Homo sapiens: one gene and its partner. The protein of the gene in region 2 interacts with the protein of the main gene of each other region in a pairwise test. Each region holds a gene or a part of one and is shown on either strand. Other genes may lie near its edges.

Evidence for each region.
Region 1: the proteins of SOD3 (region 2) and GOLM2 interact in a two-hybrid assay, tested with the Homo sapiens proteins (one large-scale study listed by BioGRID).

What each region holds. Positions count from the first base shown.
Region 1 is NC_000015.10:44,410,609-44,413,695, reverse strand, and holds part of GOLM2 (protein GOLM2), read right to left. Parts: intron 361-3,087; coding exon 290-360; 3' UTR 1-289.
Region 2 is NC_000004.12:24,794,148-24,798,476, reverse strand, and holds the start of SOD3 (extracellular superoxide dismutase [Cu-Zn] preproprotein), read right to left. Parts: upstream 2,905-4,329; 5' UTR 2,826-2,904; intron 1-2,825. UniProt on the Homo sapiens protein: Protect the extracellular space from toxic effect of reactive oxygen intermediates by converting superoxide radicals into hydrogen peroxide and oxygen.

The DNA of each region.
Region 1 (3,087 bases), on a different chromosome or scaffold from region 2:
AGTCGGCTCAATAAAATGTGAAATATACATTAGTTTGCTTTAGATGCAAAGATTAGCTGTTTTTGGCTTAACTGTATCATAACCAAAAAAGTCTATACCTTGATAATACAATATGAAAAAGTTCACATATGTACATGGGTACATTCCTTCATTAAAGTTTTTCCTTAATTCTATCTCAATGTATCTTTACAACTGATACAATTCGTCTTTACAACAAAAGTCAGAAAGGACAAAGTAGAATGATTTCATTTTACAGCACTTTAGGTTTTCTGAAGCATTCCTTTAGGACTTAAAGGACATCATTGAAATGTTGCTTTCCATAGTCTGCAGGATCCATTTGAAGCTCTCGTTCTTCATCATCTGTAAGTAAAATAATTTTGTATCAACATATTATTTTTTAAATCACTGCAGAAATCCAATTAATGTCTCAGTTTTTCATAGCCTTAAGGTAGTTTCCTGCTTGTTATTTTACACCTAGTACAAATAGTGTTCTATTTCTTAGTTGCTTGGCTAAAGAGTGAAAAGTATGTGGAACTATTTTGCAAGATTAATTTTAACAAATCTTTAGAAAATAGACATAGATGACAGACAAACAGAAATAGAGCCAGATAGACATAACTAGTAAAACTTTAGGAACGCACAAATATTGAGGAGTTAATATTTTTATATAAATGTAGTCTTTTTTTTTTTTTTGAGACCGACTCTCACTCCGTTGCCTAGGCTGGAGTGCAGTGGTGCGATCTTGGCTCACTGCAACCTCTGTCTCCCAGGATCAAGCGATTCTCCTACCTCAGCCTCCCAAGTAGCTGGCACTACAGGCACCTGTCACCATGCCTGGCTAATTTCTGTATTTTTAGTAGAGACGGGGTTTTACCATGTTGGCCAGGCTGGTCTCAAACTCTTCACCTCAGGTGATCTGCCCACCTCGGCCTCCTAAAGTGCTGGGATTACAGGCGTGAGCCACAGTGCCCAGCCTAAATATATTATTTCTATATAGATGATATTTAGTCCTTTAAATTAAAGCTTTGGTAGAAACATTTCTGTACACATTTTCAGGCTTTTAAACATCAATTTTTTTTTCTAAATTATAAAAGTATCCAATATTAGTATTTTTAAAATTATAAAAGACAGAAAAATAAAAGTCACTCATAATCCCAACATTTAACATTTTAGTGAATTTCTTTACGTCTCTGCAAAAGTAGCTTCCTCTTGGCTTCCTAAATGGGGTATAACAACCAAAGTTTAACCTTTTCTTAACTAAACAGAAAAAAAAGATTACTGTTACTAAAATCCTCAAAGCCTCTTTGAGTGGCTGTATTAAATTACTCCAAATAGTGCTATGGAGTTTGATTTATTTGGCTATTACAGATTTTTCTGGCTCTTTCTTGGCTATGAGTTGTGATCACTTTGCCTTCTTGTCAATTTACCTGCCAATAGCAATCCTTCTTTTCTAATTTTGCTGCAAATTACAGGTTTTGAAATGAGACTGCTGAAGAGGTTTTTTTGTTTGTTTGTTTGTTTGTTTTTCTGAGACAGAATCTTGCTCTGTTGGCCAGGCTCAAGTGTAGTGGTATTATCATGGCTCACTTGCAGTCTCAACCTCCCGGCCTCAAGTAATCCTCCCACCTCAACCTCCCAGGTAGCTGGGACCACAGGTGCACGCCACCACACCAGGCTACATTTTGTATTTTTTGTAAAGACAGGGTTTTGCCATTTGCCCAGGCTAGTCTGGAACTCCTGGGCTCAAGTGATCCACCGGCCTCAGCCAAGAGTATTAAAATTATATTAGAACAAGAATGAAAAGTATTTTGATGAGAGCCTTGGAGAGTCCCTTTGGAGTACATGGATTTTTTTTTTTTTTTTTTTTGAGATGCAGTCTCATTCTGTCGCCCAGGCTGGAGTGCAGTTGCATGATCTCAGCTCAATGCAACCTCTGTCTCCTGGGTTCAAGGGAATCTCCTGCCTCAGCCTCCTGAGTGGCTGGGACTAAAGGCGCTTGCCACCGCACCCAGCTAATTTTTGTATTTTTAGTTTCACCATGTTGGCCAGGCCGGTCTCAAACTCCTGGCCTTGTGATCTACCTGCCTCAGCCACCCAAAGTACTGGGATTACAGGCATAAGCCACCGCGCCTGGCGTAGAGTACATGGATTTTTATGATATCTTTTGGCTTCTCTGCAGACTTAAAAAATCACTTTTCTTACATTCTGGGTCACATACTATTACCCAATAGCTTAATTTTTGTTAATATAATTTAAAGAAAGTCATACATTGGAATCTAAATTCATATGTATACTATAGTTTTCTAAAAACTATTACTTTAGGTATGAGAGGTTTTAACACTCTAAAACTTTCTTCTTTCAAAAATGCAAAACAGGCCAGGCATGGTTGTCCAAGCTTGCAATCCCAGCACTTTGGGAGGCAGAGGCAGGCAGATCACTTGAGCTCAGGAGTTTGAGACCAGCCTGGGCAACATGCTGAAACCCAGTCTCTACTAAAAATACAAAATTTAGCCAGGCATGGTTGTGTGTACCTGTAGTCCCAGCTACTCAGGAGGCTGAGGTAGGAGGATTGCTTGAGCCTGGGAGGTGGAGGTTGCAGTAAGCAGAGATCACACCACTGCACTCCAGCCTGGGTAACAGAGTTAAACCCTATCTCAAAAAAAAAAAAAAAAAAAAAAAAAAGTCAAACAAACCAACTTTCTTTTTCAACAACTTTCCTGTTAAACTTACAGAAATTTTCATTTCTAGAATTTCAGGTAACCATTTTGCACCTTTTTTTTTTTTTTTTTTTTGATACAGGGTCTCAGTCCCATCACTCAGGTTGGAGTACAGTGGCACAATCTCGGCTCACTGCAGCCTCAACTTCCCAGGGCTCAAGGGATCCTCCCACTTCAACTTTCTGAGTAGCTAGGACTACAGGCACACACCACATGCCCAGCTAATTTTTCCTTTTTTTTTTTTTTGTAGAGACAGGGTTTCACCATGTTGCCCAGGCTGGCCTTTAACTCCTGGGTTCAAGCGATCTGCCCACCTTAGCCTCCCGAAGTGCTGGAATTACAGCTGTGACCACTGCACCCAGCCTACCCC
Region 2 (4,329 bases):
AGTGCAGGTGGTGCACACAGAGGAGGCATGGGTTTAAGAGACACACCGGGCAGCACTGGCAGGATGGAAGATGAAGGCACAGTGCAGATGACCAGGGTTCCCAGCAGGAGAGACTGAGTGGAGGGAGGGTGGGACCTGTTCTGGAAAAGCAGGGAGAGAGGATTAGTTCAGCTGGAGTCTCCTGAGGGTGAGACGCTGGCGGGTGCCCAGGTGGGAAGACAGGTGGGCAGACAGTCGGAAACTTGGGTCTGGCACTTAGAAGAGGAGATGAAGCTGGCAGGGGTTCTCAGTGTTGACTGCACATCAGATGTCTGGTTTTTAAAAATCAGATGCCCAGGCCCCACCCCAAGAGATTTTGATTCTGTGAGAAAGAAAGGAGAGAAGAAAGACAGAGAGAGAGGAAGGAAGGGAAAGAAAGAGGAAAGAAAGAAAAGAAAAGAAAGAAGACACCTCTATCAAAGATTCTGGGGCCCAGCTAGGAATTATAAAGTCAGGTACAGATTTGAATCCCAATTCCAACCTATACTAACTGTGACTTCACGGGGTTACTGATGCTTAGCTTCAAGTTCCTTACCTGTAGAATAAGGCCAGCCATGCCACCGAGGTATTTCCAGAGGGATTGATGCTGCCTCCAAAGAATTGCTTTGAAGGTCAACTGCATTTCCAGCACCAAACTAGGTGCCATTTAAAAAACTCCAAGATTGGGTAGATATGCTTTATATAACCATTTCAGAAAGGCAATTTAGTGTGGTTATTAAAGGGATGGATTCCAGAACTCACCTCATGAATCTAAAGCCTGACTCTGCCACTTAGTCTAAGGGTTAGCTGTTACTATTTTTATTGCTGAGTAGCAGAGTAATTGCTGGACTGCAGACTGTACACTGTCTCATCCCCTGTGAACCTCAGTTTTCTCATCTGTAAATAGGGATACTAATACAGACTTACCTTAGAGGCTTGCTGCGAGGCTTAAAAGAGATGATTAGAATTGCTAAAACTTATCGAACACAGGCGCCAGACACTATTATAAGTACTGTGCGTGGGTTAATTCCCTGCATCCTCACAAGAACATTATTCAGTGTTATCCCCATTCTAAAGTGTAGGAAACTGAGGCACAGAGAGGCGTGTGTCCCGCCCAAGGTGACATGTTCACTAAGGAGCTGAAGGCAGGATTTGAAAGTGTGTGTCTGCTCCAAGCCCAAGGTTTAGGCACCACACTGCACATCTCTCATCTAGGGCACTTAGCACAGAGCCCAGTACATAGAAAGTTCCCAGTAAATGGCAGCTCTTAGCTATCAGAGAGAGCTGCTGGTAGAGATTTTAAGGACCATTAGCTAAGAGATGCTATGGACACTGTGAGAGGAGGTCCCCTTGAAAGGCTCCAAGAAGGAGGATCCAGAAAGAGGGAGAAGCAGAGAAAGTGATGTTGAAGGACTCACCTAAATGACATGGCCCAATGTGGTACTACTACCCCAAAGCCCCAGGGAGTAGGCAGGAAAGTGGGGTAACTCTCCTGCCAGACCTGGACATGAAGTTCCCCATCATCAAAGACACCTTCCTCCTAAGACAGCCCTGCCACTCAGAAGGGCTCTGCTGCTTAGAAAGTTCTCCCTAAAAGCACAGAGCAAAACCAGATTGTTTTGGGTGTGTCAGTGAGCTTTCTTTTTCAAGAATCCTTGGGAAATAAACATTTTAAGGAGATGTTTTTCTCTGAAACCAAAAGAAGAGCCAGGCATGGTGGCTTATGCCTGTAATCCCACCCCTTTGGGAGGATGAGACAGGAGAATCATTTGAGTACAAGAGTATGAGACCAACCTGGTAGAGACCCCCATCTCTAGCAAAAAAAAAAAAAAAAAATAGCTGGGTGTGGTGGCATGTGCCTGTAGTCCCAGTTACTCAGGAGGTTGAGGTAGGAGGATCGCTTGAGCCCGGGAGGTAGAGGCTGTAGTGAGCCGTGATAGTGATCGTGCCACTACATTCCAGCCTGGGTGCTGGGTGACAGAATGAGACCATGTCTCAAAAAAAAAAAAAAAAAAAAAAAAAAGAGAAGAAGGAGGAGGAGGAGGAAAAGGGGGAAAGAAAATTCTCCCTCAAACCCAGGTAAACTCTGACTTCTTGTTTCTTAAGCCTTTGACACCTCTTCCCCTCGGGACCAACTTGATTCTTCTCCCACAGCCTCTTGCTCAGTTTGAGCTGTGAATGACCAAGTGCCTTTTTAAGGGCCTCCTTTGTACGTGGATCTGGAAGGGAGGACGGTGTTATCAGAGAAAGAGGACAGTGTTATCAGAGAAAGAGGACAGGGGCCCTTATCCTGAACCAAATAGAGGCACCAAGCCTTTATCTCCTTCCTGGGTCTGTATCTGGGAAGAACCTGCCCCTCTTGAGCCTTGGGTGTGTTTCATCCCTCAGCTGTCTCCTAGAAGGAGCTCTTGCTGGGAGCCTGAGCTGGCCAGGGCCTCTCTGCTTTCCTAAGGAGGTGGCTTTTTAGAGTACCTGCTGTCCCATAAGTGGCTCCCGACACCAAAGCCATGCAACATCTAGAAAGGCCCCCTTTCTCGTCACTCCAGATTCCTTTTCCTAACACTAAAATCCTCTTGGACTGGTCTTTGCAGATCCACAGGAGGAACGGTTTCTTCCTCCCCTCCTTGCCTTCCTCCCCGCTCACTCCACCTCCCCACTAACCCCTCAGAGCAGCCAGGGAAAGTACATTTCCTTCCCAAGAAGATGATCCAATTTGTTCCCAAGAAGAGGCCCGTTGCCCCAACCCAGCTTCAGACTCAATAAGCACACTCCGAGAAGAACAAAATGAACCTCAACTTAGCACCCACCTTTCCAGCTCCTCCAAGAGAGCTTTCTCTCCTGAAAAGAGAGCTGCACCCAGCCAGCCCAGGAACGCAGGCTGTCCCTGGAGCCTGGGCTGTTAGCGCGAGTGCAGGAGGCCAGCCCAGAGGAGTGGTCAGCGTGAGGGAGCCAGTCATTGGGCCAGTTCAGGGAGGAAAAGCAGGCCAGACCTCCCCGGGTTGTAGAATTGCTTCGCCTCCACCTCCTCCCGCTCTGTCCCCACCTCCTCTGCCCCTCCCATTTTTGGGTTTTCGGGCCAAGGATTCCATTCCGCGACTTCACCGGCTTGTAGCCAGTGACCTTCAGCACACAGCAGGGGAATAAAAATGAGAAAGAAAATCGCCTGTTTGGAGAGGTGTACAATGACCTCTTTATTGAGAGGCCCTTTGCTTTTCTGTAAGTCAATAACTTATTGACTTATTTTTGCTGCATGGAAATGGGCACCTTGCAAATGTGCGTGGCATTTGCTCCAGAGCTGTGCTGTCATACCTATGAGAGCAGAGCAGCGGGTGGGTCGTGATGACACACTCAGGCTGCAGAGTCCCAGCCTTGTCACTTCCTATCTGTGTACGCCTGAAGCAGCTGCACCACTCCCTGCACCTCCTTTTCATCATCTGTAAAATGGGGGTGTGAGGCTGTCCACCCCGCACGCCCACCGTGAAGATCCAATGAGATCATTACTCGCCCAGTGACAACACAGTGGCTGGCACTAGCCGCACTCATAAGTAATCATCATTGTCATTGTCGTTACCGTTATTATTAAAGAGATGAAGGAGTCTTTTTAAAAAATGTGTTGTCTGGGAGAACTAGGAGTGTTTCCCTCCCGACGTCTGTCCTTTTTTTGCTGCCATGAACTTTTCTCAATCATAGCAGCCCTTTCCAAAAATAGAAGCTCTTCTTTCCCAGAAAAGCCCATGTGGGAAAAACCAGGCAGCCTGCTTGCTGGCCTGCCCGTCCTCCTGCATTCCTGCAACAAATGTTTATTGGGTGCTCATCCATTCCAGTCACCATGCTGTATGCCGGGCACCCACAGCTGCATGAGTCACCTTGGGGGTTCATACTCTGGGGACGGAGACAACAACGTCAGTAAATGCATCCAGTACAGAGTGGGGAGCGCAGCGACGAAGAATGAACAGGGCCTCGTGAGGTCCCAAACACCCGTTTCGGTGGCAGGAAAGCTTATAAAAAATCTAAATCTCTGGATCCCACCCCAGGATGGGTGACTTAGTTACCAGCAGGAGCTTCCTAGAATCATCTTGGAAAAACTCAAACTAATGATCTTTATCCAGGGACAGGCATTCTGCGAGATAAGAGGGAGACTTCCCAGAACTGAGACTCCAGCCCTTCCACCCTACCGTCCTTCCTTCTGGCCCGCTGAGAACTCAGGCACCAGTAGCTCAGTCTTGCACCTCTGCATTCTGTTGGTAGGCGTAGTTATCCTCAACTAATGAGTTTTCAGAGTTCCCCATGCCACCCACCACCCCACCCCCA